Regions from separate parts of the Homo sapiens genome. Here all the other regions are linked to region 7. A link means that fine-mapping ties the variant in region 7 to the plasma level of a protein whose gene starts in the linked region. Region 7 holds a variant in brackets. A gene starts in each other region. All regions are shown on their reverse strands.

Region 1 (4,094 bases), not on the chromosome of region 7:
TTAAAACCCTATTACTTGTCCCTGGTGGAGGTGAACACTGGGGGCCCTTTCATATAGGACTAGCCCTCGGGCTGCAATCTGAGCGGAAAAGGGAGGATGAGGGCATACTTCGAAGCTTCTTTTGCATAACTGGCGCTGGATTTTTACTGAGACTTTACGTTACAGTTTTTTTTTTTTAATTTTCAAGGTGCTTTTACGAACACATGAATAAAATATTTGTGTCATTTTGAACCTTACTTGTCTTATTTTATGCATGTATTTATTTATGGGGGGGCACAAGGACTCATCTGTGGTGGTGCAGCCACTGTAAATAAATTAGTGAAACTACTTCACGTCAATTTCTGTTCAGTACACTTTAGTGATGGATCGGAGGAAATTAATACATGTTTACAAAAAGCCCCTCCCCCAGTTGTTACATATGCCTCAGAGATACCAGTTGTGAAAAGTGCAGGTGCACTTACACACATACGCACACACACCCCACAAATGGTATCATACGAAAAAACATACCTGCAATCTGCTTTGTCCACTTAATTGTATATCTTGGATACAGAACTTGTTTCACTGGAAGGCTAAAAGGCAAAGTCTGGGGAGGCCTAGAGGACACAGGGGATGGGAGGAGGCGCTCTGAGCTGGATGTAAGGTCTCCACCCACGGCCAGAGCACAAGGTCGGATAACCAGTGGGCCTGCCGGCTTGGCTGCCTGGGCCCTCCCCTGCCGAGACAAACGGCTGGAGGGAGGAAGTGTGCGGCTGGGAAGCTCCGCTGCTCTGGCCCGGGTTTCCCATTTCCCCCTTCCCGCGCTGAGACGGCGAGGAAAGTTAGCCCGGAAATCTGCGCCCGCCTAAAACCCGGCCTGGTCCCAGCCACCGCCCCAGGAACTTCCCCCACCGCAGGGGCGGAGGTCGAGAGCAGGGATGGAGAAGTGGACCTGCGCGGGTGGACTCCGGGGCGCGGGTGGACTCCGGGGCGCGGGGGGACTCCGAGGAGCGGGTGGACTGTGGGGCGCGGGTACCGTCTCGCAGCGACCTCTGTCGGCGGCTCTGGGGATGGCCCGCATCTGTCTGCGTGTACCTGGTATACGTGCAGGTACATGTTCCTGTTCACGTGCAGACTGGGCGGGGGATGGGGGGGTCCACACCGGTGTACACCTTTGCATACCTCTTAGCAACTTGAAATTCCACCACGAGAGATATCTTTATTCCGCTATTCCTGTGCATCTGCACGGAGCCCCTAGGGCCATAGATTTGTGTGCAAATGAAATGAGGATGTAGTCTGGGTGCCCAAGGGGGGGTGCCTTGAGTGTGGTTGTCTGTATGCCTCCCTGAGGGTATTTCACTTTCTGCTCCCATCCGCCCCTATGAGCGAGTACCTATGAGCACAGGATGTGCACATATTTGAGTCTTATTAGTGGTACACGCAGTTTTATCATCTCCCCAGGTCTGTGTCTGTATGAAATGTGCATGGGTGTGTGTGTGCACGCGTGTGTTCCCACTCGGGGAATGTGGGGAGAGGTGCATGGAGCCAAGATGGGTGGTAAATAGTATGTTTCTGAAATTAAAGGACTAATGTGGAGGAAGGCGCCCCAGATGTACTAAACCCTTTGCCCTTCATCTCATCCTCTCTGACTTGGGAAGAACCAGGATTTTGTTTTTAAGCCCTTGGGCATACAGTTGTTCCATCCCGACATGAACTCAGCCTCCCGTCTGACCGCCCCTTGGCCTTCCTTCTTCCTCGATCTGTGGAACCCAGGGAATCTGCCTAGTGCTGTCTCCAAGCACCTTGGCCATGATGTAAACCCAGAGAAATTAGCATCTCCATCTCCTTCCTTATTCCCCACCCAAAAGTCATTTCCTCTTAGTTCATTACCTGGGATTTTGATGTCTATGTTCCCTCCTCGTTATTGATACACACACAGAGAGAGACAAACAAAAAAGGAACTTCTTGAAATTCCCCCAGAAGGTTTTGAGAGTTGTTTTCAATGTTGCAACAAGTCAGTTTCTAGTTTAAGTTTCCATCAGAAAGGAGTAGAGTATATAAGTTCCAGTACCAGCAACAGCAGCAGAAGAAACAACATCTGTTTCAGGGCCATTGGACTCTCCGTCCTGCCCAGAGCAAGGTAAGCACTTCCCAAGCCCCTACCTCCCTCCCCTCCCTGTGGGCCTGCAGCTGTCCAGGTGTAGAAACCGTTAGTGTGCTACCCCAGCAGCTGGCAGGAGGGAGTTGGTGGATTCCTGGAAGCATCCCTGGTGAGTCATCTGCTGGAACATTAGTGAAAACTTAGTACTCTAGGGACCGATGTACAGTGTCCATTTTAAAAGCCACCTAATAATAACTGTATAGCAAGATCTGTGTGTATGCATAGTTTGTGGAAATGTTTGTTTTATCTTATTTTGAAGTGGTGTGTATTGATGTATAAAAGTATATTCCTAAATGTTAATGCCCATCAGTTAAAGGATTGTATAGAGCTAAAGTGAGTGGTGCCTGCCTTACTATTGAAATTTTTAAAAAGCCTTTCGTGCATTCCTTAAAGTAATTGGATTCATAATTATAATAATGTTACAAATCAGACTTGCTCCCATATTTGTGATGGTCTTGGTCGTCAGTTGTGATATCAACCAAAATGACAGCTGGGATCCCCATTCTTGTGGATTAACTAACTTTGGCCCCAGTTAAAAAATGAAAAGCTATTATTGCTTCCTAAAGAGTTTTTAAATCTGTGAGAAGGGGGAAAAAAAGGTTTTTTTACTTGCCCAGGTAAAATTGTGTGCAACAACAATGTCATTTTAACAAAGGGATTACTAAACCCCAGGTGATGACCCACTTTTTCAAACAAGGAATTGCAAGATACTAGATGGAATGTGGGTAACCTCTTAGAGTTTAGTTTACTGGAATCTGAAATTGTATGATTTCCGTACATTCCTTCATGCTACTAATAAGTCATGGAATCCCTCTGTGCTGGACTCTGGGGGTAAAGTGCAAAACAAGATAGACATGATCCATGGCATAAGAGAGTTCACTCAGTGTGGCAGAGAAGACAAACAGTAAAGAAGAGACTGTATTGTTGCCATTGTAGTAAATGCTGTGGAAGGAGGGGAGCAAATAGTGGGTCCTGACTTCATCTAGGCACCATGACACTTCACGTGAATTATGTCACTAACTCCTTACCACAGTAGCATGCCCATTTTATAGATCAGGAGTGTGGGGCTTAAAGGGGCCAAGTGACTCACCCAGAGTCACACAGTTCTAGAAGTCTGCCTGGCCCTCAAACTAGGGATCTTTGCATGTGCCACCCATGCCATCTGTGACTATATCTTTTTATTCTTTAATAATAACTCCCTTTTCTAATTAAAGGTAACAAACAAAACTTAAAAAAGAGATGCCCACCCAAGCGTCATTGGCATGCTGATGTTGGCACCAGTGTTGGGAAGCCCTTAGCATACTCCAGGAAGTAGGAGTGTGTAACGTGGGGTCCCTTTGTCCTTCATGCAAGGGTTTCAAGAGTTTAGAAAACCTATGAAATTGCACACACAAAAATGTGTTTTAATCATCAAGACTCTCAGACTTACCATGCTGAGAAATGTGGGCTGAGGGATAGCGCTCCCTAGTATCAGCTGATGGGCCAGAGAGCCAAAGGAGGAGACCCACCACCATCACCTCTCCTGGACAGTGCTCTGTGGTTTCAAATGTAGGTGATACTAAAATGGGAGTTGCTTCTTAGAACCATGGCCGGGGTTCCCTTGACCCTGAAGTGCAGTTCACCTGAGATTGTCAAATGCATCTGAGGCATGCAGAGGAAGTGCTGGGCACACAGCTAGTGGGAATACCTCAGCGTAAGTGGCCAGGAGATGCCAGGAATCTCCACTATTTCCCTTCCAGTGTGCCAGCCTCTGGGTTTTACAGGCGCATGTAATTGCAGTACCTCTGTGCACATTTCCCTACTGCCTAGAATGACTTTCTTGACTATCCATGATATATAAAACACAGATACCGAATTGTTCCCTTACCTCTTCCTCTAGGTTCAAGTTAATATGTTATTGGTTGCCTTCTATAATATGTTATCTCATTGCCTTTCCCAACAAGCCTTTGAGATA
Region 2 (4,094 bases), not on the chromosome of region 7:
TTAGTAGAGATGGGGTTTCACCGTGTTAACCAGGATGGTCTCGATCTCCTTACCTCGTGATCTGCCCGCCTCAGCCTCCCAAAGTGCTAGGATTACAGGCGTGAGCTACCACACCTGGCCCAGAAATACTTCTTTATCAGAAATATTACTGGCGGGTGTAGCAGGGCACGCCTATAATCCCAGCACTTTGGGAGGTCGAGGCAGGCAGATCCCTTAAGCTTAGGAGTTCAAGACCAACCTGGGCAATATGGTGAAAGCCGTCTCTACAGAAAATTAGCCAGGCACAGTGGTGTGTACCTGTGGTCTCAGCTCCTAGGGAGGCTGAGGTGGGAGGATCACTTGAACCCAGGAGGCTGAGATTGCAGTTAGCTGAGATTGTGCCCCTGCACTCCAGCCTAGGCGACACGGTGAGACTCTGTTTCAAAAAACAAAAAAGAAATATGACTTATTTACAAATATTTCTTTCTTTTTTATTTTTAGAGACAGGGTCTCACTATTACGTAAGTATTATAAATTATATATATATGTTTGTTTGTTTGTTTGTTTTTCTGAGACAGAGTCTTGCTCTGTCACCCAGGCTGGAGTGCAGCGGCACAATCTCCACTCACTGCAACCTCCGCCTCTTGGGTTCAAGTGATTCTCCTGCCTCAGCCTCCTGAGTAACTGGGACTACAGGTGCCCGCCACAATGCCCAGCTAATTTTTTATATTTTTGGTGGAGATGGGGTTTCACTGTGTTAGCCAGGATGGTCTCGATTTCCTGACCTCGTCATCCACCTACCTCAGCCTCCCAAAGTGCTGCTAGGATTACAGACGTGAGCCAGTAAGTCCGACATCTTTTTTTTTTTTTTTTTTTTTTGTGGAAACAGGGTCTCACTGTGTCTCCCAGGCTGGAGTGCAGGGGCACAATCTCGACTCACTGCAGCTTTGACCTCCCAGGCTCAAGCGATCCTCTCACCTCAGCCTTCCAAGGAGCTGGGACTACAGGCACCAGGCCCATGCTACTGGTCCCTGCTGTTTACAAATACACTAGACTTGGGTTTTAGCTGCTCTCTCAACACCAGGTGGGAAATGGATTGTTCGGAAGGTAGAGGAATAGAGGAGGGACCTGCTTAGGAAGGTGGGGGTGCTCTAGATGAGAGAGGAGGTGCTGTGACCTCAAGGTCTGGGGAAAGTGGGTGAGTGCAGGGCCCCATCAAGGCTCTCAACAAGGCCTCTCTCTCTGGAGCTCAGATGTGAAGCCCAGAAGGCAGGTCAGAGGCCTGAGGTCAGAGGCAGGTCAAAGGTGGGGGTCCCACCTGGTCCCCTTGGCGCCTTCCCTTGGAATGCAGTGACCAGCTGCCTGGAAGGGTGGGCAAGGGGACAACAGGATGGGGTAAAGGCCAGTTACAAGTAGAATCCTGGAAGGCCGGGCGCAGTGGCTCACGCCTGTAATCCCAACACTTTGGGAGGCCAAGGCGGGCAGCTCACTTGAGGTCAGAAGTTTGAGACCAGCTTGGCCAACATGGTGAAACCCCGTCTCTACCAAAAAGTACAAAAATTAGCCGGGCGTGGTGGCACATGCCTGTAATCCCAGCTACTCGGGAGGCTGAGGCAGGAAAATCGTTTGAACCCGGGAGGCAGAGGCTGCAGTGAGCCGAGATCCCGCCACTGCACTCCAACCTGGGTGACAGAGTGAGACTCTGTCTCAAAACAAACAAACAAAAACCAAGTAGAATCCTGGATAGACAGTGGCTCAGGGACTCAGCTGTCCCCAAATCACCTACCTTAGCTCTTTGTGCAGGGGATGGGGGATCCCCAAGATCTTCAAAGATAGGGAGGTATCCTCAAGATCTTCAAAGGTGGCCAGGCGTGGTGGCTCACGCCTGTAATCGCAACACTTTGGGAGGTCAAGATGAGAGGAGGCCATCTTAAGGCCAGGAGTTCAAGACCAGTCGGGGCAACATAGCAAGACTCTGCTTCTGTTTCTGTTTTTGTTTTTGTTTTTTAATGTTTCCTCGAAATCCCACCTTAACATCTACACAATGGTGCCTACAGTTTTCCCCATTAACTTCCTCTCTGGGGACAGAATATTCCCCTACCCACCTAAGTTCAGCCAGAAGGAGATGCCTCATCCCCCCCACCCAGGCTTCCCAGTGCTGAGAACAAAAGAAACCAGTTTAGTTAGCATTTCCTGTGAATTCAAATGGGGGCCAGCAGTGCAACTGGGACCAGCCCATTCCCTGGGGGAGACTCAGCAGTGCTGGCCACTTTGCAGAGCCCCGTCTGGGTCCCCCACCCTGGCCCCCAAGGGCCACAGCATCCCCTTCCACCCACAGGCCTGGGCAAGGTGCAGTCCCCAGACTTCTGCAATCTTAACCGCTGTGCTTCCGTCGCAGTGGGAGGCCCCGCCTTTTCCCCTGCCTGCCCTTCGGGCACCTCAGGAAGGCACCTTCCTCTGTCAGAATGGCCACCATGGTACCATCCGTGTTGTGGCCCAGGGCCTGCTGGACTCTGCTGGTCTGCTGTCTGCTGACCCCAGGTGAGACCAGTCAAGCCGGGGAGGGCTGGAGAGGGCTGCGTTTTGGGGATCAGTAGAGGGTAGAGGAATAGAACGCAACGCTGTTCACATCCTGCCACACTGCGACCTGGCCGCTGACTCTGTATCCTCGGGAGAAAGTTCTGGTTCCTTAGTTCAGCCTTCAGGTGGTCAGGCCCCAGCATAGGCTTGTACGCCATCCCTCTCCCCTAACACACACACACACACCCCTCATGCTTCCTGCTCCATCTGAACTCCTGAAATTTGCCCTTTGCGTATGTGCTTCCCTCTGCCAGGATCACCTGTCCCTTTCACTTGCTAACTCCTACTTAGCCTTCAGTTTCGGGCTGCAATGGTCCCCGCTTCCAGGAAGCCTTCCCTGACTCACCTCCTCCTATGCTGGATCAGAGCCTCTTCTGGCCTCCTTCTGAGTTCTCCCCGGTCTCTGATGGATTCTACCTTTCCCACTGGACCATGAAGGCAGGAACCCTTCTGTCTCGGCACAAGGAGAGAGGTGTTAAATGGTGGGGCCTGTTGATGCGTGGGTTGGGGGACAAGGAAACAAACACCAGGACTTCTTCATGTTCCTGAAGGTGTCCAGGGGCAGGAGTTCCTTTTGCGGGTGGAGCCCCAGAACCCTGTGCTCTCTGCTGGAGGGTCCCTGTTTGTGAACTGCAGTACTGATTGTCCCAGCTCTGAGAAAATCGCCTTGGAGACGTCCCTATCAAAGGAGCTGGTGGCCAGTGGCATGGGCTGGGCAGCCTTCAATCTCAGCAACGTGACTGGCAACAGTCGGATCCTCTGCTCAGTGTACTGCAATGGCTCTCAGATAACAGGCTCCTCTAACATCACCGTGTACAGTGAGTCGACGTGTCCGGAGGTGGGACTGGTCTTGGGTAGTGGTGTGGGCAAGTGGCCAATGGCTCAGGAGAGTGGGGACCCTCAGTTTGCAAAGAATGGACCACAGTTCTGACCCAGAGCTCAGACCTGGACATTTGTGTGTGAGATACAAAGATAGACAGAGACAGAGACACAGAGACAGAGACAGAGATATAGAGACGCATCTCAATCTCATGCCAAGGCAGCAGTTGTGAAATCAATTAACTTGGGCCCCAACAAGCATTTTTTTTTTTTTTTTGAGACAGAGTTTCGCTCTTTTTGCCTAGGCTGGAGTGCAGTGGCACGATGTCGGCTCACTGCAACCTTCGCCTCCTGGGTTCAAGTGATTCTCCTGCCTCAGCCTCCCGAGTGGCTGAGATTACACATGCACGCCACCACACCCAGCAAATTTTGTATTTTTAGTTGAGATGGCATTTCACCATGTTGGCCAGTCTGGTCTTGAACTCCTGACCTCAGGCGATCCGCCCACCTCAGCCTCCCAAAGTGCTGGGATTACAGGCATGGGCCACTGCGCCCGGCCCCAACAAGCTTTTTTTTTTTTTTGAGATGGCGTCTCTTACTCTGTAGCCCAGGCTGGAGTGCAGTGGTGCAATCTCGGCTCACTGCGACCTCTGCCTCCCAGGTCCAGCTAATGCCCAGCTAAGTTTTGTATTTTTAGTAGAGACGGGGTGTTCCGC
Region 3 (4,000 bases), not on the chromosome of region 7:
CTTCACCCATCCATTCATGCTTGGCACCCACCTCCCTCAACCCATTTCCAACACTTTTCCTTCAACACCTGAGAGATGACTCGAGTTATTACAAAGCGCCACTCTATTCTAGGGCTAGAAGCCAGCTCCCTGTGAGGGTCTAGAGATGAGCTTGGACAAGGGTGTTGAACCCAACACTCACCCAGAGAAAGCCTACATGTTTTTGATCAGGGAAACCCAGACCAGGTGGTGAAGTGGCTGAGTCAGACTTGGGACCCAGTGTTTTAAAAACAGTGGAGTGAGAAAGCCTGACTTTTTTTGTTTTTTTAAGACGGAGTCTCACTCTGTGGCCCAGACTGGAGTGCAGTGGCACGATTTTGGCTCACTGCAACCTCCACCTCCGAGTTCAAGCAATTTTCCCTGCCTTAGACTCCCGAGTAGATGGGATTACAGGCACCCACCACCACACTCGGCTAATTTGTGTATTTGTTAGTAGAGACGGGGTTTCACCATGTTGGTCAGGCTGGTCTTGAACTCCTGACCTCAGGAGATCTGTCCGCCTTGGCCTCCCAAAGTGCTGGGATTACAGGCGTGAGCCATTGCACCCGGCCAAGCCTGACTTTAGAACTGGCTAGGATCTGCCTTCTGTTTGTAGCTGAGGGACCCTAGGCAGGAAAGCAGGAAATCTCCCACGCTGGGCCTCAGTTTCTCCTCTACGAAGTGGGCATAATGATAGCTCATCAGGCTGTTTCGAGATGAAAAGAGACATGCCCTATTTAGCACACGGTGAGACCCCTATTCTTATTCCTCTTTGCAGGAGACGGCTGCTGCTGTTCCAGTCTCTCCTTAGGCAGACTTGAGTTTCTACCCACTCTTCCCAAGCAGCCGCCCCTCCGCACCCGAGCGAGCCAAAGACCTGGCGGGCTGAGTACTCACTGCGCGCTGGACACATGCTGAGCCGGCACTGCAGGGACACAGGGCGAGCCGCTGGATGCAGACCTGTGGCCGCGGCAGGTGAGGGCGGTGGCTGGGAGGCTGACCCAGGGGGCCACATTTTTATAATTGTCCCGAGGCGCGGCAGGACTTTCCCGGGACTCTGGTCTCTTGCTTTCTGTCTCCTTCTGTGTCTCTCTCTACATCAGCTTCTCGGTGACACGTGCGGTGCGGCCGGCCCGCGGGGCTTGCGGCGCTTTCGGATTAACTCCCGGGGTGCCCGGCCGCAGCCGTTCCGGGACGGCCCCGCCGCCTCCAGCTCGGCCCAAAATGAAAGCGAAATGTTCGCAGTTACTGCGCGGGGTCCACAGGCGGGCGGGACACCCCGCCCACCACCCTGGGTCCCCGGCCTTAGCCGGACGCCCCGTGTCTAAGCTACCCCGCCCCGCAGCTGTGCAGCGCCCCCTGCCGACGTAGAGAGAGGAGTGCCTCCCACTTTGCATGTCCTGCGTAGGGATGGGCCCTAACCACGACCTCCAGCCTAGTACTGGAAGGGGTAGGCAAATCATTCACTCATCATCGTTCCTTTAGATGGCTCACTAGATGCCAGGCCGACGTTGCACCAGGTGCAGGACACCCAGGGAGAACAGGACCCTTGGGGCATTGCCACACTAAATCAGACTCAAGGCGTTTTGTTCACAGGTCTTTTCTGAAACCTGAAAAGGGATGAGAGCTGGCTGACTCTGCAATTATTACTCTTGTAGAGAATCCAGTTTAACGATAGGATGAATACACAGAGTCCTGGGAGGAAAGACCTAGAGAAAGAGCCCACGCTCAGCCGGAGCAACGGGGTCCAGGAGTCAGCAAAGGCTCCCGGGAGCAGGCAGGGGCCCCAACCTGAGTGTTAAAAACAAGCAGGCATTAGACCGCTTCCAGCGGGAGGGCACGCAGGGTCTAGCCAGGGGAAACAGGGATCAGAAGCGCAGTCATGAAGGGTTGAGGGAGGTGGGGGTCTAGGTGTCCTTGCAGGGTGTGAGGCTGGAGGGCTGGATGGGGCCATGCCATGAGGGCAGGGGATGCCATACTAAGGAGTGTACTTTCTGTGCTGAGAGTAGTGGGGAGTCTTCCTGGGTTTTAGGCGGGAGATGTGGCAGAATTTGCATGATGGGGGGATCCCTTCAGCCACAGCATGAAGGATGGATCCAGGGGTCAGGAGTAGAGCAGAGGGAAGAGTTGACAAGGTGTGGCCAAGTCCTTATTCAGTATGGAGAACACAGGGTGGGCAGGAGGGACTCTCAGAGGGCTTGTGGGCCAAGGCTTGGTAGCTCCTCAGGTGAGCGGGAGAGGAAGGCCCTGAGAATGGGGAATGGAGATTGTTCTAGCTTTACAGGGATTACTGTATAAGAGGACTGAGTTTGGAGGAGATGGTGAGAAGTTCCATTTTGGATGTGCTGGGTTTGAGGTTCCTGTGGGACTTTTTAGTTCAGTTGTTTTTCCCACAGGCATTAGTCACCCTAGGCGTGGGTAGTGGGGAGGATGTGTTTGATCTCTGACTTGGAGCTTCCAAAGGGCCTGACTACACCCAGGCCCTAGGACCTAATAACTGGAGCTGCCTTCTGGGTGGCTCATCTGCTCGAAGCTGATGAAGCACGGCTGTAGGGAGTTTTAGGTGTGTGTAAAATAAGAGAAATGGTTGATCTCTAAGGCCCCTTCTAATGCTGCTGTCTGAGAATTCCCCCACGGGATACAGAGTAATCCATTGTCAGAAACAATTGCGTTTAGCAGTTTGTCTAGAGCAAATGACAGGTGCAGAGCTGTGTTGTGGCCACAAGGGTTTAGTGTGGAGTTAAATGTACTTAAAGTCAGGATGAAGACAAGTGTATCACAACTGAGCTGTTTCTCCCCTGGAAGGGCCATCTCCTATACAAAAGTAATTTCTGTTGCTTAGATGAGCACAGGGCCACTGTTAAAAATGGATTATTGGCTACCAGACACAGTTTCTAATTTACATTTTTGTGAAATAGTTTCCTGAAGTGCTCCATGTCCTCTAGCTAAGATGAAATGAAAACCTTCTTCTAGGAATACATGATTTTTCTATAAGTGACAGTCTTAGCTCACAATCACTACTTCACAGTGTGTAGCATTGTCGTGGAGGTCTCGGCCAATGCTATAAGGAAAGAAAAAGAAATGAGAGCTTTAAACATTGGAAAAGAAAAGGTAAAACTGTCACTTTTTACAGTTGATATACAAAAAGAAAAAAAATTAATAGACTATTAGAACTAAGAAGAGAATTTAACAACATCATGCAATACACATATCAACTTAAAAAAAATCAGCCGATTTTCTTTGTATCTGCAACAATCCATCAGAAAATGTAATAAAAACAAGATGACATGCATAGAAGCAGCCAAACTATAAAGTAACTGACTGTAGATACAGAGGCAGTATAATGGCTAAGAGTATGGACTAAACTATGTTAATCCAGGTTCTGCTACTTACTTGCTGTGTGTTCTTAGGTGAGTTATTTATCTCTCTGGGCTCAGTTTCCTCATCTGTTAAATGATGATAATAAAAGTACCTACAGTATAGAGTTATTATGATTATTACATGAGCTTGGATAACTACAGAATAGTGTTTGGAGAAAAATTTTAAAGTTCAGTCAAGAATATAGTGTGATTTAATTAAATAATTCTATACCCTTGGGTGGAAGGTTTCTCTATATAGAAAGCTTAAGCCTCTTTTCGTTAATTCACATGCTCAATGTAATTCCAATACAAGCTACAAATAAATTTTCTCAGAAACTTAATAATAAGCCTACTCTAAAATACAGATGTAATAAAATCTATGACTAAGTTAAAAAAATTTTTTTTGAGACATGGTTTTACTGTATCACCCAGGCTGGAGTGTAGTGGTGGCACAGTCACAGCTCACTGCAGCCTTGACCTCCTGGGCTAAAGTGATCCTCCCACTTCAGCCTCCTGAGTAGCTTGGACCACAGGCAACACCATCATGTCCAGCTAATTTTTATTTTTGTATTTTGTAGAGACGGAGTCTAGTTTTGTTGCCTAGGCTGGTCTCAAACTCCTGG
Region 4 (4,083 bases), not on the chromosome of region 7:
GCCAAGGAAGATGTGGAAAAATGATAGGTGAGCCACATAATATAGGATAGAGGGTGAAGGGGGAGCCTTTGTGAGGGAGGTAGGAGGATAGCATTCCATGACGCATGAAATTGGTCATAATGGTCATTGAACTGTGGACATAGATCTTTGAAGAAATTGAATGGGGGAATAGATTTTATTTTAAGGGAGTCAAGCACAGAGTGGGACAGCTGTGTATCTCTGGATTGTAGGATACAGAGGGAGACCACAGGTGGAAGATAACAAAGCACAAGAAAAAAAATTCCAAAAATAGCAAGAGCCTAGGAAATTTGAGGGAGTCAACATCAGGAATATCCCTTAAAAGGTTCATCTATGCAGAATTTTATGGTGGGATGGGATAATGGGAAATGGCCCAAAAATTAGTAGAGAATATTTCCCTGAAATAGAACATTCTAAAGAACTCCCATAATTTAGATGATTGAACTTACATTTCGAGTAATCTTGACTTGCATGGTCTTGAATCTCCCGAGTTAATCCAAAGAGGTAGAAACGAAATAACAACTCTAGGTCTGACAACTCTTCATTGCTGAAGTTGCCCTTGGACCAGTTATGCAGGAAAATTATTGTGCCTGATTCACTGTCCCAGCCATGAGTCTGCAACTCGTCCAGCCATCCTGAGCCCTGACCTCGTGCCCAGGATTGGTTGACAAATGAGAAGATCTGGATGACATGGAAGGAGACGTGTTCCTGGGATGCTTTTGGTGGAAGAAGGGCAAGTAGTGTAAGGAAAAAAAAAAAAAGAGAGGCAAGGAAAATGGAGAGAAAATGGAAGGTGAACCAGTTACCACAGAGAAACATTAATGACTACTTTAGCTATACCATTTTCCTTACACAGAGCCCCATGCTCTGCCACCATCCTCTAAAAGAGTAAACTGGACCTGGAGAGAGGTATGCTCAAATGGCAACCATTCTGGCTTCTTCATTGATCCATCTTGGGAAAGCCCATCATGCTCAACCCAGATACATGTAACCTTGCAGCTGACAGAGATGTTCATACTATCTGCATTGTCACCACCGGGGAGGAGAAGAACTAGCAGCGGAAACTACAGAAACAGCATGTCATTTGCAGTTGTTTCCTTCTCTCAGAAAAGCCATTTGCTGATCTCTGTTCTTAGCAAACTTATCCCTCTACATCTATATTCTGACTTCCTTCTACCAACAGACAATCTTCCCCATCAGCCACTGACAGCAACTAAGACAATCTGCTTCCCTTAACCTTAGGCCTCCTACTCAATCTCTCATTTCCCCATCTGCTCTGAACTAAAGTTACTCTCTTCCCTTAGGATTTTAGCTGCTCTCCCACTAAGCTCCATCTTATCTACTTCCCTTCCTCAACTGCCTTAGACAAAGTGGTGCGTGGCATTGAAAGGTTGCTTCATCCCTCTGGACCTTGCGTGTCATTTGTAACATAAAAAGGAGAAACCACATCATTTTCCTGGGCCCTGATTGTTTTAACGGAAAATGGAGAGGAAATGGAAATTGAACCAGTTACCACAGAGAAACATTAATGACTACTTTAGCTATAACATTTTCCTTACACAGAGCCCATGCTCTGCCACCATCCTCCAAAAGAGTAAACTGGACCTGGAGACAGGTATGCTCAGATGGCAAGCATTCTGGCATCTCTATTGATCCATCTCGGGAAAGCCCAGCACACTCTACCCAGATACATGTAACCTTGCAGCTGACAGCGATGTTCTTACCGTCTGCATTGTCACCACCTGGGAGAAGAAGAGCTAGCAGCAGAAACTGCAGAAACAGCATGTCATTTGCAGATGTTTCTTTCTCTCAGAAAAGCTGTTTGCTGATCTCTGTTCTTAGCAAACTTATCCCTCTGTACCTATATTCTGACTTCCTTCTACCAACAATCTTCCCCATCAGCCGCTGACAGCAACTAAGAAGATCTGCTTCCCTCAACCTTGGTCCTCCTACTCAATCTCTCATTTCCCCACCTGCTCTGAACTAAAGTTATTCTCTTCTCTCAGGATTCCAGCTGCTCTGCCACTAAGCTCCATTATATCTACTTCCCTTCCTCAACTGCCTTAGACAAAGTGGTGTATGGCATTGAAAGAAAGGTCATTTTGTCCCTCTGGATTTTGCATGTCATTTGTAAGATAAAAAGGAGAAACCATGTCATTTTTTCAGTTCCTGCTTGTTTTAATAGATCACAGTTCTTCCAGTTTCTCCACTTAACTTTGCCTCCACTCTCCATAGTGTCCCCTCTTCTCATCACTCCATTCTTTCTTTCCCCCTTTTGAATGTCCTCAAAGTTTTCTCTTTCCAATTTCACCTCTTTTCACCCATCTTTCTTATTTCCTCATTCTCACTGATTCTTTTATAAATTGGAGACGTTGCTTTTTACATCTTCCAAGATTTCCCTGCACAATTATATAAACTACAGTCCACTCTACATTATCCTTAGAGATTAAATTGCAGCCATTCAGAATGCATAGGACCATAACAAATATAAAGAAGCCCTTCTACTGCATTTAATCTGTATAGTCATTCACTAAAAAATTACATAGTACATGGTTGATACCAGTGTCTTACTAGGCATATAAACACACAGAGGTTAACAATGTAATCTCTTCTATCAAAGAGTTTTAAACTGCAGATGTTTAAACAAAAAATTAAAATGCATTGTGATTTTAATTTCAATGTATAGAATCCCAGATACAAATCTACTTAGAACTATATTCTCTAGAGCAGCATTTTGACTGACTAACCCCCTGGGAAGTTCATAATTTGAAGTCCTGGAAGAACAGCATGCATCTCAACTAAATACTGAAAATTCTGTACAGTGTGGAATGGTATACGATTGTGATAGTCAGAACATGCAGCTTTTCAAGAGGACTCATACATGGGGAGACCACAAAAATCCAAATTTAAGTTGTTTTGTGATCTGACCAAAACACATTGTATAAAAAGGGCAGCATTTGTCAATGTTTGATTTAAGTAGTTTATATGAAGTATTCAGTGACTTATCAGTGACCCTGGCTGGTTAATATGTGTAAATACATGAACACAGTTTTTTTGAGATCCAGGAAATACATTTATTATTATAGTGTTTCTTAAATCATATTAATTATTCACTGAATGCATTGGAGCAGTCACTTAAAATCTGGGCATGAATTTGTGCTAGGCACAATGACTCATGCCTGTAATCCCAGCACTTTGGGAGACCAAGGTGGGAAGATCACTTGAGCCCAGGAGTTTGAGACCAGCCTGGGCAACAAAGTTAGACCTCATCTCGATAAAAAAATTAAAAAGTTGGCCAAATGTGGTGGCACATGCCTGTAGTCCCAGCTAAATGGGAGGCAGAGGCAGGAAGATCTTTTGAGCCCTGAAAGTCAGGGCTGTAGTGAGCCATGTTCATGTCACTGTACTCCAGCCTGGGTAACAGAGCAAGACCGTGCCTTAAAAAGGAAAATCCCATTTGTAACATTGTTTCTGTTTTAAATTTATATTTATTCTATGTATTTACTGTGTACAACATGATACTTTGATATATACACTATTTCTTAGGTTTGTCAACGTTAATAGTGAGGCCAGAAGTCATTCTCAATGAGCTCTTCCTATCATGGCCACAGATATGTGGCAATTTCTATGAACTATAATATCTTTAAGAGCAATACCCAGTTCAAATCCTACCCAAATCATTCATAAGCACTAGGTGTTATCTTTGCTCATCTTGTGCTGTTAATGGCAAATACTTGGTTTGTGGTTTTAGAAAACAATAGTAGATACCACATTATGTGTTTATTCACATTTTTTTCCATGTTCCTACAGGAAAGATGCAACTGTCCTATTTCCTAATAGTTGGGTTAAGGTCATGGACTGAGTTCTGGGCAATGGAATGTGTGGTGTTGGAAGCATTAGCCAGCTCCAGTCCTGACCACTGAAAATATCACATCTGATCATCTTACCCTGTGGTACCAACTTGGCAGTCAAATTTCTAAATGGCAAGACTATGAGATGGAGAAGAGCAGCCTGATCTACATGCAGTTTAACTGCATGAGAAATAAACTTCATTGTGTTAAGCCT
Region 5 (4,000 bases), not on the chromosome of region 7:
AAATAAGAAGTTGATATTATGGAAGTATAGCATAGAATAGCATCTATCAGAGACTGAGGAGGGAATGAGGAGGGAAGAGAGGGAAAGATTGGTCAACAGGTACAAGGTGCCAATTCGATAGGAGGAATAAGGTTTGGTGTTTTATTGCACAGTAGGGTAACTATGGTTACTAGTAAGGTATTATATATTACAAAATAGCTAGGAAAGAGGCTTTTGAATGTTCTCACCACATAGAAATGAAAACTGCACGAGACAATGGATATGCCAACCACCCTGATTTGATCATCACTGTACAACATATATATGTATTATATTGCAATGTCAAACTGTGCCCCATAAATATGTACAATTACAATGTGTCAATTAAAACATTAAAAAAACCAACAGATTAAAAGAAAAAGAGAGAGATGAAACAGCAGAGTGTATGCAAAAACAGCTTTACACCCTGGATTTAAAGGGCTCTACATTCTCATTCAGGAGATTTTTTTGCATTGGTCCTGAAACTTTACACTAAACAAGCTTATCCCCACACAGGCTTTCCTAAGCCAATAAATAAAGCTATGGAATACCTATTCGTTTTCAGCACTTTCGCTGTTAGCCTGGTTACCAACATTGCTCCCTTTTCCCTCTGGTTTTGCGTATCACTGAATAGTTTCTTTTCTCAGTCATACTCATTGAGCTGGATACCTGGACTTAGACATCATTGCCTGACAGCATCTTTCCCCTAATAGGTTACTTTCCACACATTCTAGTTATTCTTAATCCTAGACACTCACGGATTTAAGAAATGTTGAAAATTAAGATAGCTTATTCTCCTCCAATCCCTAATCTAGGCTTCACTTGCCTAGAACTGGTATCCCTAATGTGCTAAAGGTAGCAATGGGAGAGATTATAGGTGCCCTGATTTTGAGGGAAAAGAGGGGCAATTTTACAAATGCCAGAGTTAGTACTAATGGTGAACCCTTCTCAAGTGCCCTGAAGCTAATTTGCATATACTTCTTTTCTGTATTTCATTTTCAAATATCCCCCAGATTGTAATTTGCCGTGATTTTATTTTTCAGTGATTTCATGCTCATTTACTGGTACACTGAAAGTTTGAATATCAAAGCGTATATCTGTATGAATAGGTTGACCCTGTACATAAGTCATCATATGCAGCAAGGGTCAGACACTACACATAACCGGGGTGACAGCCCCATCAGTCCCTGATTTAATGACATGTTTGCATAATATGACTATACTAGAGAAAGTTTGCATAGTGGGACTATATTGCTGAGCAAGAAGAATGTGCCAATTAGAAACAATCCAGGAGACATCCCTATCAAAGGTGAAAAGTATTGTAGATGTATCAAAGATGAATTTCAGCAGGACCATAACCTGATGAGACTCATCAAAGTAGGAAACTGCCTTTAGAAAACTTCCTTTGAAATACCTGAATTCTTGAAAAAGTCCCTCAAATATTGATGTGTACTATCTGCAGCTTGTGGAACTGAATCAAACTATATTTAAAAAGGAGCATCTTTAATTTTCTCAGACTTCATAGAAAAGGAAATGGAGACTGGTCACTAGAGGGTTCTTCTTCCTTCTACTTCTGCTGAAGGGTAACTTCCGATATCAACTTCCTCAAACCTCTGATGAGCTGCTGCTGCTCGACTCTGAGGTGCATTCTTTTTTTGATGAGAGGCATCTCTAGGTACCATCCCTGACCTGGTCCTCATGCTGCCGAGGCTGTTGCTGTTGATCTGTGGTGAGTTGGGCAACTCAGAGCAGGGCATGGGATGCAATCATGCTTGGGCTCTGCTTCCTGAAGGGCTGTAAGGACTTCTTAGGACTAAGGTTCTGTCAGGTAATGCTCAGGGGTGCTCAGATCTCCACTTCCACGGAGGGCTCAGAGTCAGGCAAAAAGTTGTAGATATTTCAAAAAGCCAGAGTTTTCAAGAAAACTATCATTTCAGTTTTTATCTCATAGGAAGTGTTCACTGTCTGTCTTCCTTTCCATCAATAATTGTCTTTGTTCTCAGTGTTTTCAACAGCTGCCAAAAGAAAAATCTGTATAATAAATAGGCCTCTGAATTCCTTGCCCTTCTTACTACCAACGTTATTTCCTTTTATCCCTCTCTGACTCCCCATTCCCACAGTCAAACCTTAGAACTTATCATCACTCCTTTGTTTTCAGCATACATCCCCCACCCCCACTAAGTTGTGTTTCTAGCTCACTTTCTCCTGCACTCTATTTCCAACATGACTTCAATTACCCCAGGGCTACTTTTCCATTATCAGTAACTACACTTCATGTGCTCACTTCTCATGGTGCTCAGCTCAGATTCTGCAGCTCACCACCACAACACTCCCTCGAGCACACCTTCATCTCTCTTCCCCCATAGCACTCTCCTGGTTTACACGCCCTTCTGCATGCTTCACTCCTGGACATAAACAGCTGAATGGGATTTTTTTTTAAATGCACAACCCTGATGACTTATCCCCTTTTAAGTGTAGGACCCCCAAATCTCAGGTAGCCAACAGCAATGCCAGGCAATTATCCTACATGTTCACAGTCCATGTTGCTCCATTATCACTATTGCATACCTTATCCTGTCACCTCATACTTCTCTGTTCACTCTCATTGTGTAATCTTGCTTCATATTTCATTGAGAAAATAAAAGCAGTCAGAAGAAAACTCTCTCATCTTTCTGTTGCTGTTGACCTACTCACCTCTGCATTCACATACACTGCCTTCTCTTCCCCTACCACGAATATATTGCCCCTCATCTTGTTGATGACAAGACTCTCCACTTGTGCATTAGGCCCATGACCCTCTTACTTTCTCAAAAAGTTTGCTCCATCATCAATATGTTTCTTCATTCTAAATTATTCCCATAAGTATACAAACATGCTACAGTATCTTTTATTAAAAACAGCTTTATTGAAATATTATTCACATATAATACAATTCACCATTTAAGTTATGCAATCCAATGGTTTTTTATGACAATCACTGAGTGGTGCAACTATCACCACAATCAATTTCAGAATGTTTTCATCACCCAAGAAAGAACGCCATACCCACTAGCAGGCATCCCCAATTTTTTTTCCAACGCCTCACCTATCCTCACCCCTCTATTTTCTGGCCACATGCAATCATTATCTACTTTCTGTCTCTCTATATTTGTCTATTCTGGACACACACCCCATATCTAACTGTAATTATATATCCCTTGAGCAACATTTCCCTCATTCCTCCTTCCCCACTATTACCCAAGCTTCTTGTAACCATGATTCTGCACCGTCCTTCTATGAGATCAACGTTTTCAGATTCCACATGAGTGAGATAATGCAGTACTTGTCATCCTGTGCCTACCTCATTTCATTTAACATAATATCCTTCAGGCTCACCCATGTTGTTGTAAATGATAGGATTTCATTATTTTTTATGTCTGAATAGTATTCCATCATGTATGTATATTGCATTTTCTTTATCCATTAATTTTTTGATGAACATCTACATTGATGCTGTCTTGGCTATCGTGAATAGTGCTGCAATAAATGTGGGAGTGCAGATATCTCTTTAACACACTGCTTTAATTTCCTCTGGATACATGTCCAGTAGTGGGATGGCTGAACCATATGGTAGTTCCATTTTTTATATTTTAAGAGCCTCCATACTGTCTTCCATAATGGCTGTTCTAATTTACAGTCCCACCTACAGCATGTGAGGATTCTCTTTTCTCGACATCTTTGACAATACTAGTTATCTTTGGTCTTTTTGATTATAGTCATTTTCATAGGTATGGGGTAATATTTCATTGTGGTTTTGATTTGCATTTTTCTGTTGATTAGTGATATTGGGCATTTTTTCATATACCTGTTGGCCATTTGCATTTCTTCTTTTGAGAATTAGACCATTGTTAATAGGGTTGTTTTCTCACTATTGAGTTGTTTGAGTTTCTTATATATTCTGGATATTAACTTTTTCTCAGATGTATTGACTGCAAGTACTTTT
Region 6 (4,093 bases), not on the chromosome of region 7:
CATGGGCATCACAGTCACAAAACACAAGAAATCAGAAGTCTGGAGACATTCCCCCTGTCCAATGCCCAAATCTAGGTCCCTGTTGCTTTCTTCCTGACCTGCTGGCCCACAACCACAGGTGGCCTCCAGAATTAATCCAAATGAGAGTCTCTGCCCTTCCAAAACATCTTAAGTGGATCATTCATCTCAGGCCACCTTCAGTGACAGGAAGGGGATTGAGGTCTGCGGAGAGCAAAACCTAATTCGGCCCTGTACCTGGATGCGGATGGGGTGGGGGAGGCGCGACGGGAGGCTGGGTACTCCAAGTTCAGCTGCGGGAGACGCCCCTCGCCCCCACCTGGCAGCCACAGAGGGTCGCCAGCCTAGGGGAGATGGTTCCTGCTGTCTTCAAATGAGCCCACCAAACCCCAGCCCGTGGGTATCGCAGCACCTACCTTGACCCAGGAGACCGTGTAGGGAACCTGCGGATCCCAGGGGGCGGTGCAGGGCAAGTCCACATCTTCGGAGCAAGCCACCTTCACCTCCGGCGTCGCGGGAGCCAGGCTGTAGGCTACAAGAAAGAGAGAGCGCGTCGTGAGCAAGCGACCGACGGGAGGGGGTGTCGTGGAGGGGCGGGGGGCGACAGGCGAGACAGGCGCTCGCGAGCCCTACCGCAGCTCAGGAGCAGAAGCTGGAGGCCGCGCGACATGGCTGGAGCGCTGCGCCGCTGCCACGAGCTGCAGAGCTGTGGCGCGCGGGCGCCGGCTGCCCTTTTATGCCCGCGCGTTCGGGAACTTCCCTGCGCGCCAGCCCGGGGGATTCCCCGGCGGGCAGCGGAAGCGGGTGGCGCGCCCTCCTAGTCCCGCTTAGGCCGGGGCGCCCCCGTCCCCGCCCCCTTCGCCCCCGTCCCCGCCCCCGTCCCCGCCCCCGTCGCACCCGCCGCCCTCGCCGCGTGCGCGTCCCCGCCCCCGCGCGCCCGGGCCGGGCGCCCCGAGTTCGCGTCGCTGCTGCGGCTGGCAGCGGCGACAGCAATCCCCGCGTGACGCCCAGCGCTGGGGGCTTTGCAGACCGCGCTCGCGCGCGTGACGCTGCCGTTGACCCGCAAAAGGAAGCCGGGAACCGGGCCATCCGAGCGGGATCTGCCCATTTTACGGAGGCCAAACCAGATTCCGAGAGGGTGGGCAACTTCCTCAGAAGCCCAGCCTGTCCTTGGGAACGCACTGGTGAACCCAAGTCCTCACTCTTCTCCAGAATCTGTGATAATCAAAGGCGCGTTAGATTTCCATGGAAACATACAAGTCTGTAGTACTTGGCTCCCTGCCTTCCCCGGGAGGTTATCAGTCAGTACCGTCCTGTTTAAATTATATCACCAAAGGAGAGTGTCTCCTATTAAAATAATAATTACACGCATACACAACATTTTTGGAAAAGAAAATTCTAGAAGACAATGAAATCACCTGTAATTCATCCAGGAAGTAACTTCAGTTAACATTTTTTTATATTATAAAATGTTTATAACATAACATAACGTAAAATATTTATAACATTTGTCAGTGCACAGATTGGTATTTTTAATGGTTTATTCTTCCTGCTATCTTGTAACCTACTTTCTTTTAGCTTAATAATTTGCAAGCGGTTCCACATCATTAAAAACTTCCAACAGCATCATTTTGGTCCATTGTTCAGTTGCACCATAAATTAGAATCGATTAGTGTTAGACATACAGGTTGTTTCTTTTTGTATTACTAATATTAGAAACAATACTGTGATTGCTATGGGAAACTTCAGTGTAGATAAATCTTTGCTCTAAAATTGCTTATTTTCTTAGAATAAATACCTCAAGGAAATTGTGCTAGGTGAAGGGGAGTTTCCAATTTTGTCAAATATTGCCAAAAAATTACCTGCAAGGAGGTGTCTTCAATCTATATTCCCATCTGCAAAGAGAGTGCCTGTTTGCCAACACAAACTGTTATCCAACCTTTCTATCTTTGTCCATCCAAGAGGTTAAAAAGAGTGGCATCACTATACCACCAGTTCTAATCTGCTCTTGGAAGTAGTTATATCAATTGACAGTCCCGCCAGCTTGTGTGAGTACCTTTTCTCCAGCAGCCTCACCAAATTAATTTTTTAATTGTGAAAATGTTAAGCATACAAAATAAGTATAGAAAATATGGAATTGAACACATCTGTATACAATTTATTCTTGAGAAATAAAACAGTACTAACATTTTCGAGACCCTCTTTTTTTTTTTTTTTTTTTTTTTTTGAGACGGAGTCTCGATCTGTCTCCCAGGCTGGAGTGCAGTGGCCGTGATCTGAGCTTACTGCAAGCTCCGCCTCCCGGGTTCACGCCATTCTCCTGCCTCAGCCTCCCGAGTAGCTGGGACTACAGGAGCCCGCCACCACGCCCGACTAATTTTTTTGTGTGTGTATTTTTAGACGGGGTTTCACCGTGTTAGCCAGGATGGTCTTTTGAGACCCACTATGTGTCCTCTGCCAGATCTCATACCTAGCCATTTATGCTTCTTTTCAGTTTTTCCTGATTATAAACAATGTTGCAGGGGAGCTGAAAGTCTTCCAACACTCTAGCTCAGTAATTACACTGCATTGTTAAATATTGCCGTCTTATTATCCAAAATGCACATGCCCATTTACACTCCCCTCAGCAGGTCTTAGCATGATCAGATTTTTTTCTTTAAAGATAGGGTCTCACTATGTTGCTCAGGCTGGTCTCAAATTCCTGGGCTCAAGAGATCCTCCTACCTTGGCCTCCCAAGGTACTGGGATTACAGGTGTGAGCCACGTGCCCAGCCAGATCTTTTTAAATTTCTGCCTATCTAATGAGTGTGAAATATTAGATCCTTTTTGCTTAATTTATGTTACATTGATAACATATGCTTCAAGAACATTGGATATTTCTGAGCATTGTCATTCATATCCTTTGGCCTTTTCCATGAGCGCTGTTTATAAAATCTGGGCCAAATCCTTTCTTGGTTATATCCATGCCAAATCTCTTCTCCAAGTTTAAGATTTGTATTTTCCATTTTGTTTATGATATCTTTAATTTACCAAAGAGTTTTTAAAAAATATTTTCATGTGGTCAAATTTACTGATCTTTTGGTTTATGATTTGTGCTTCTGGTATTGTGTTTAAGAAATCTTTTCCTGACCTGAGATCATAAAAACATTCTCCTTCATTTCCTTCCAAAACTTTTAAAGTCATGCTTTTTCATATGTTGGTCTTTAATCCATTTAAATATGGTTTGATGTCGTGATCTAACTTATTTTTTCCATATGGATAACCATTTTTTCCAATGCTGCTTGCTAAAAGTCCTTCTTTCCCTACTGATTTAAAATGACATCTGTGCTTTATACAAATTTCTACATATGAGTGGGCCTGTTTCTAGACTCTATTCTGCCTCTCTTTGTGCTAATATCACACTTTCTTATTACTATAATTTAATTAAGTCTTGCTGTGGTGGAAGTGAGTCCTCACATGTTGAACTTCGTCTTCAAAATCGTTCTGGTGGCTGGGTGCAGTGGCTCACGCCTGTAATCCCAGCACTTTGGAAGGCCCAGGTGGACGGATCACTTGAGATTAGGAGTTCAAGACTGGCCTGGGCAACATGGTGAACCTGGTCTTTACTAAAAATGCAAAAAAATAACAAATACAGAAAATAGCCGGGCATGGTGGCTTGCACCTGTGGTCCCAGCTACTCAGGAGGCTGAGGCAGGAGGATCGCTTAAGCCCAGGAGGTCCACGCTGCAGTGAGCCGAGATTGTGCCACTGCACTCCAGACTGGGTGACAGAGCAAGACTGTGTATCCAAAAAAAAAAAAAATGTTCTGGCATTCTTGGTTCTTTGTTCTACCTTATACATATTATATCAATTTGTGAACCTCAAAAAACTTGATTTGAATTTTAGTAGGAATATATTCAATTTATAAATCTCCTAAAATCAACATCTTTAGAAGTCAGTTCTACAAATTCATCCCATATTGTGTATCTTTCCATTTATTTAGGTCTTCAAGAATTTTTAAAATTATATATATATAGGTTTTTCACATCTTTTGATAGATTTCTTCCTGGATACCTTCACATTGTGTTGCTACTTT
Region 7 (4,090 bases):
GGTAGAGATGGGGCTTCGCCATGTTGCCCAGGCTCCATCCAGCTTTTTATGGGGCATCCCTGTGGGCTTGCTCCTGGACCGCCTTGCGTTTTCGCTCCACACACTCAACACAGTCCATCCCCACTACACCCGTGATGTCCTCCCATACACCAAGGGCCCTCATGCTTGCGTCTCCTTTCGGAGCTTCAGGTTCATATGTTAAATGTTTGGATGTCTCAAAGGTCCCTTTAACACAGTGTATGCAAGGTGAATTCCCCTAACCCTGGCCCTGCACCAGCAGTCCTCTCTGTGACTGGTAATGAATGCCAGTGAATAAATAACCACATTCTATATAGTTGGGCACACTAGAAACCCGTGACTTTTCCTTGACACCTTCCTCTTTCTAACACCCTGTGAGCTAATCCTATCAGGTTTCCGATTAGTGTCTCTTGATTCCATCCTCGTCCCTCCATCTCTATGACCACCACTCTAGTTCAAGGCTCTCTCCTGGACAAAAGCTTCCAAAGCAGGTTCCTGTATCCACTCTTGCCTCCCTTTGGCTTCTCCATACTGAGGTCCAAGTGACAGTGGCGAAAGGCTAAGCAGATCAAATGGCTTTCCTACTTCACATTTCCTCCACCACCCGCATGGCTGGGCCACCGCTGCCTCCCCACCTCTTGCTCTCGGCACCCCAGAGCGCTGGCCTTCTTTCAGTTCCCCCAGCACTGTCCTCCCACCCACTGTGGGGCCTTTGCACAAGTGGATCCTTCTGCTTCCCCTTCCCCTTTCATGTAAGTATCTCCCACTGCCCCCTCAGATCTCAGCTTAAACACCACTTCCTCTGTCTCACACCACAGACAATATTGAGGCCCTTGCAATGTGCGACATTAGCTCTCTGCAGGCTTTCCCCCGTAGAATCCATCACCTTTGTCATGACATTTTTTAACATCCAATTGTTGTCCCATCTGTCCAGTAGCCCCTGTGCCTCATGAGGGCAGGGTCTGTGTCTGTGGTGCTGTGCTCTCTCCTTTCTCGACCTTTGCCCACTCTTTCACAACCCTCAGCACTGTTCTCCTCCCCTTCCACCATGAGTCACCTGGCCAGCTCCCATTTTTCTTCAGGACTCAGTTTAGACATTGAATGCTCCTTTCTCCACCCCTCCAAGGCTAAGGTAGCTATCCCTTTTGACCCTACAGTACCCCTGCACTCCTTTGCCACGTTGCATTTTTTCTTCTTTTTTTGAGACGGAGTCTCACTCTGTCGCCCAGGCTGGAGTGCAGTGGCACCATCTCAGCTCACTGTAAGCTCCGCCTCCTGGGTTCACGCCATTCTCCTGCCTCAGCCTCCCTAGCAGCTGGGACTACAGGCACCCACCACCACGCCCGGCTAAATTTTTTTGTATTTTTAGTAGAGACAGAGTTTCACCGTGTTAGCCAGGATGGTCTTGATCTCCTGACCTCGTGATCCGCCTGTCTCAGCCTCCCAAAGTGCTGGGATTACAGGCATGAGCCACCGTGCCCAGCCCAACGTTGCATTTTTTCTTTTTCTTTCTTTTTTCTTTTTTTGAGATAGGGTCTCACTCTGTCACCCAGGCTGGAGTGCAGTGAAGTCATCATAGCTCACGGCAAGCTTCAAGTCCTGGGCTCAAGTGATGGTCTGCAGCCTTTCCAGTAACTGGAACTACATGCAGGCACCACCAAGCCCAGCTAATTTTTATTTTATTTTATTTTATTTATTTATGTATTTTTACTTTATTTTATTTTTAAGTAGAGACAAGCTCTTGCTATTTTGCCCGGGCCTTTCTTGAACTTCTGGGTACCAGCAATTCTCCCGCTTGTCTCAGCCTCCCAAGATGTTGGGATTAGAGGCGCGGGGACCCACGTCTTGCCTGCCGTATTGCATTTATGGCACTGTATTGTCATGGCTTATTTACTTCTCTGCCTTCTCCAGGAGACTCTAAGATCCAGGAAGACAAGGGTTGTGTCTTGTTTTTCCTTCATTCCCCAGTGTCTAGGACATTGGCTCTTACAGAGTAGGCACTCAATAAATACTTGTTGAATGACTGAATGAAAGAGGTAATGGTACATGAAAATGCTTAGAAGAAGCTAAGCATGCTAAAAAATGTAAGATATTATTTTAGCCATGAGGAATAGGACATGAACAAGTAAAGCCCCGAATCCCTGTCCAGCGTGAAGCTGAAGACATGATGTATTAGGGGGTCCCAGTGCCCACAGGAAATCCCACCCCCAAGCTAAAATCTTGGAAACAAGGATACCCCTGAGAGCTTGCCCAAACCAAAATAGAGGATGTCAGCACCGGAGAAGCCACTATAAAGGTTAGGATGCCTTCCTGGACAAAATAATGGAACCTGGCAATCGAACCAAATCTTCACTGAATGTAAAGAAGAGTTACTATATCTGGAAGAAAAAGTCTGTTCACAGAGGGGTGGTGCCTGGAGCCTGGAGAGGGAAGTCCAGAGACCCTGCCCTTGCCCCTGTGGCTGCCCGGGCTGCCCTGACCAACTGCACATGAGCCGCAATGACGGGAGCCCTTGGATTCCATAGTGACTTTCCTCACACTGTGCTTCTAAGTCAGCTT[A/G]TAAGTACAGTTTGCTGAGCTATCTGGAATTTTCCCTAGAGAGAGAATGCATTGGCCAACCAATATGTTCTAGCCTGCTTGGCAGTTTTATTTCTCAATGTCAATTAATGGGTCTCTTGAGCACCTGATAGTGGGAATTAGTCCTCTTTGACCTTCTCCCATTGGACTTGCTGGCAAATCTAATGTTCTAGACCTGAGGGCCACAGGCTAGAGTCAACCATGCTCACGACACTGTTATCTCTCTCTGACTACAACAGATCCAAGAGTTCAAACAAACAAACAAAAAGGACGTTTCTCCCTTCTGTTAACTTGTACTGAGGAGGAAAAGCATGTGTTATTATTTTGTTTGTTTGTTTTGAGGGCCAACTGTAAGGATTTTTATTTTGGTAGGTAGAGGAAAGTCCTGTTGAAAGGTGCATTACCAGATTCAACATTTATACTATAGTCTTTGTTTTGTTTTGTTTTGTTTTGTTTTTGAGACAGAGTCTCGCTCTGTCACCCAGGCTGGAGTGGTGCAGGGGCTCAATCTCGGCTCACTGCAACCTCTGCCTCCCCAGTTCAAGGGATTCTTTTGCCTCATCCTCCTGAGTAGCTGGAATTACAGGTACGCACCGGCACGCCCGGCTAATTTTTTGTATGTTTAGTAGAGACAGGGTTTCACCATGTTGGCCAGGTTGGTCTTCAACTCCTGACCTTAAGTGATCCACCCGCCTTGGCCTCCCAAAGTGTTGGGATTACAGGTGTGAGCCACTGCGCCCAGCCCTATACTACAGTCTGAATTCTGCCTTAGGCTGGGCATGGTGGCTCATGCCTGTATTCCCAGCACTTTGGGAGGCGGAGTTGGGAGGATTGCTTGAATCTAGGAGTTCAAGACCAGCCTGGGCAACATGGTGAGACCCCATCTCTACAAAAAATATAAAAATTAGCTGGGCATGATGGCCTGTGCTTGTAGTACCAGTAACTTGGAGGGCTGAGGTAGGAGGATCACTTGAGCCCAGGAGGCAGAGGCTACAGTAAGCTGAGATCATGTCACTACACTCCAGCCTGGGTGACAGAGTGAGATACTGTGTCAAAAAAAAAGAAAGAAAGAAAAGGAAAAAAAAAAAAGAAAAAGGAGAAATTCTGTCTTAAAACACAGGATATTGTTTGTTTGTTTATTTATTTATTTATTTTAAGATGGAGTTTCACTCTTGTTGCCCAGGCTGGAGTGCAATGGTGCAGTCTCAGCTAATTGCAACCTCTGCCTCCCACATTCAAGCGATTCTCCTGCCTCATCCTCCCAAGTAGCTGGGATTACAGGTGCCTGCCACCACGCCTGGCTAATTTTTGTATTTTTAGTAGAGACGAGGTTTCACCATATTGGCCAGGCCAGTCTTGAACTTCTGACCTCAAGTGATCCACCCACCTCGGCCTCCCAAAGTGCTGGGATTACAGGCATGACCCACCATGCCTGGCTTCTCTCATAATTTTGAATTTAAATAAATAATGCAGATTGACTCTGAGCTGAGAAAAA

Direction of the effects. Positions count from the first base shown, and alleles are read on the strand shown. Strength reflects both the effect of a copy and how common the allele is.
In carriers of allele G in region 7, the plasma level of the protein whose gene starts at base 2,064 in region 1 tends to be higher than with A alone (moderate association).
For the plasma level of the protein whose gene starts at base 2,435 in region 2, A is the low allele of the variant in region 7 and G is the other (weak association).
In carriers of allele G in region 7, the plasma level of the protein whose gene starts at base 1,255 in region 3 tends to be higher than with A alone (moderate association).
For the plasma level of the protein whose gene starts at base 1,945 in region 4, A is the low allele of the variant in region 7 and G is the other (moderate association).
As copies of G replace A in region 7, the plasma level of the protein whose gene starts at base 1,634 in region 5 goes up (weak association).
For the plasma level of the protein whose gene starts at base 728 in region 6, G is the high allele of the variant in region 7 and A is the other (moderate association).

The links. PIP is the posterior inclusion probability: the model's chance that the variant is causal. Protein levels are from antibody-based Olink assays in UK Biobank. Linkage for the fine-mapping came from a reference panel and not from the study's own genotypes, which makes the PIPs less certain.
Region 1: IL12B starts here. The variant in region 7 is fine-mapped to the plasma level of the IL12B protein (UK Biobank, PIP above 0.99).
Region 2: ICAM3 starts here. The variant in region 7 is fine-mapped to the plasma level of the ICAM3 protein (UK Biobank, PIP above 0.99).
Region 3: it holds the start of IL12A, and the variant in region 7 is fine-mapped to the plasma level of the IL12A protein (UK Biobank, PIP above 0.99).
Region 4: it holds the start of CD1C, and the variant in region 7 is fine-mapped to the plasma level of the CD1C protein (UK Biobank, PIP above 0.99).
Region 5: FCRL1 starts here. The variant in region 7 is fine-mapped to the plasma level of the FCRL1 protein (UK Biobank, PIP above 0.99).
Region 6: it holds the start of CD83, and the variant in region 7 is fine-mapped to the plasma level of the CD83 protein (UK Biobank, PIP above 0.99).

What each region holds. Positions count from the first base shown.
Region 1 is chr5:159,328,457-159,332,550 of GRCh38, reverse strand. IL12B (interleukin 12B) reads left to right here and starts at 2,064. Exons shown (of 8, transcript NM_002187.3): 1 at 2,064-2,119. It overlaps IL12B-AS1 (IL12B antisense RNA 1), which reads right to left and starts at 1,033. Exons shown (of 5, transcript NR_037889.1): 1 at 511-1,033.
Region 2 is chr19:10,337,965-10,342,058 of GRCh38, reverse strand. ICAM3 (intercellular adhesion molecule 3) reads left to right here and starts at 2,435. Exons shown (of 7, transcript NM_002162.5): 1 at 2,435-2,520; 2 at 3,111-3,377. The coding sequence starts at 2,445. RefSeq lists enhancers at 837-1,584, 1,585-2,332, 2,426-2,475, 2,696-2,795, 3,081-3,829.
Region 3 is chr3:159,986,090-159,990,089 of GRCh38, reverse strand. It overlaps IL12A (interleukin 12A), which reads right to left and starts at 1,255. Exons shown (of 7, transcript NM_001397992.1): 1 at 916-1,255. The coding sequence starts at 931. It overlaps IL12A-AS1 (IL12A antisense RNA 1), which reads left to right. Exons shown (of 10, transcript NR_108088.1): 9 at 797-993. RefSeq lists enhancers at 995-1,044, 544-1,044, 1,045-1,545, 2,397-3,596 and silencers at 1,165-1,214, 1,285-1,484.
Region 4 is chr1:158,287,785-158,291,867 of GRCh38, reverse strand. CD1C (CD1c molecule) reads right to left here and starts at 1,945. Exons shown (of 6, transcript NM_001765.3): 1 at 1,743-1,945; 2 at 468-734. The coding sequence starts at 1,803. It also overlaps a transcript of CD1B not described here.
Region 5 is chr1:157,817,754-157,821,753 of GRCh38, reverse strand. It overlaps FCRL1 (Fc receptor like 1), which reads left to right and starts at 1,634. Exons shown (of 11, transcript NM_052938.5): 1 at 1,634-1,747. The coding sequence starts at 1,717.
Region 6 is chr6:14,114,407-14,118,499 of GRCh38, reverse strand. It overlaps CD83 (CD83 molecule), which reads right to left and starts at 728. Exons shown (of 5, transcript NM_004233.4): 1 at 652-728; 2 at 435-550. The coding sequence starts at 688. RefSeq lists cis regulatory regions at 1-225, 1-296, 462-1,117, 301-1,117, 457-1,365 and silencers at 861-980, 1,108-1,402.
Region 7 is chr13:28,028,358-28,032,447 of GRCh38, reverse strand. All of the region lies in intron 15 of FLT3 (fms related receptor tyrosine kinase 3), which reads left to right. Among named protein-coding and RNA genes, the nearest start is that of URAD, 42 kb to the right of the region's middle. The variant A/G (reference allele first, on the strand shown) is at 2,578.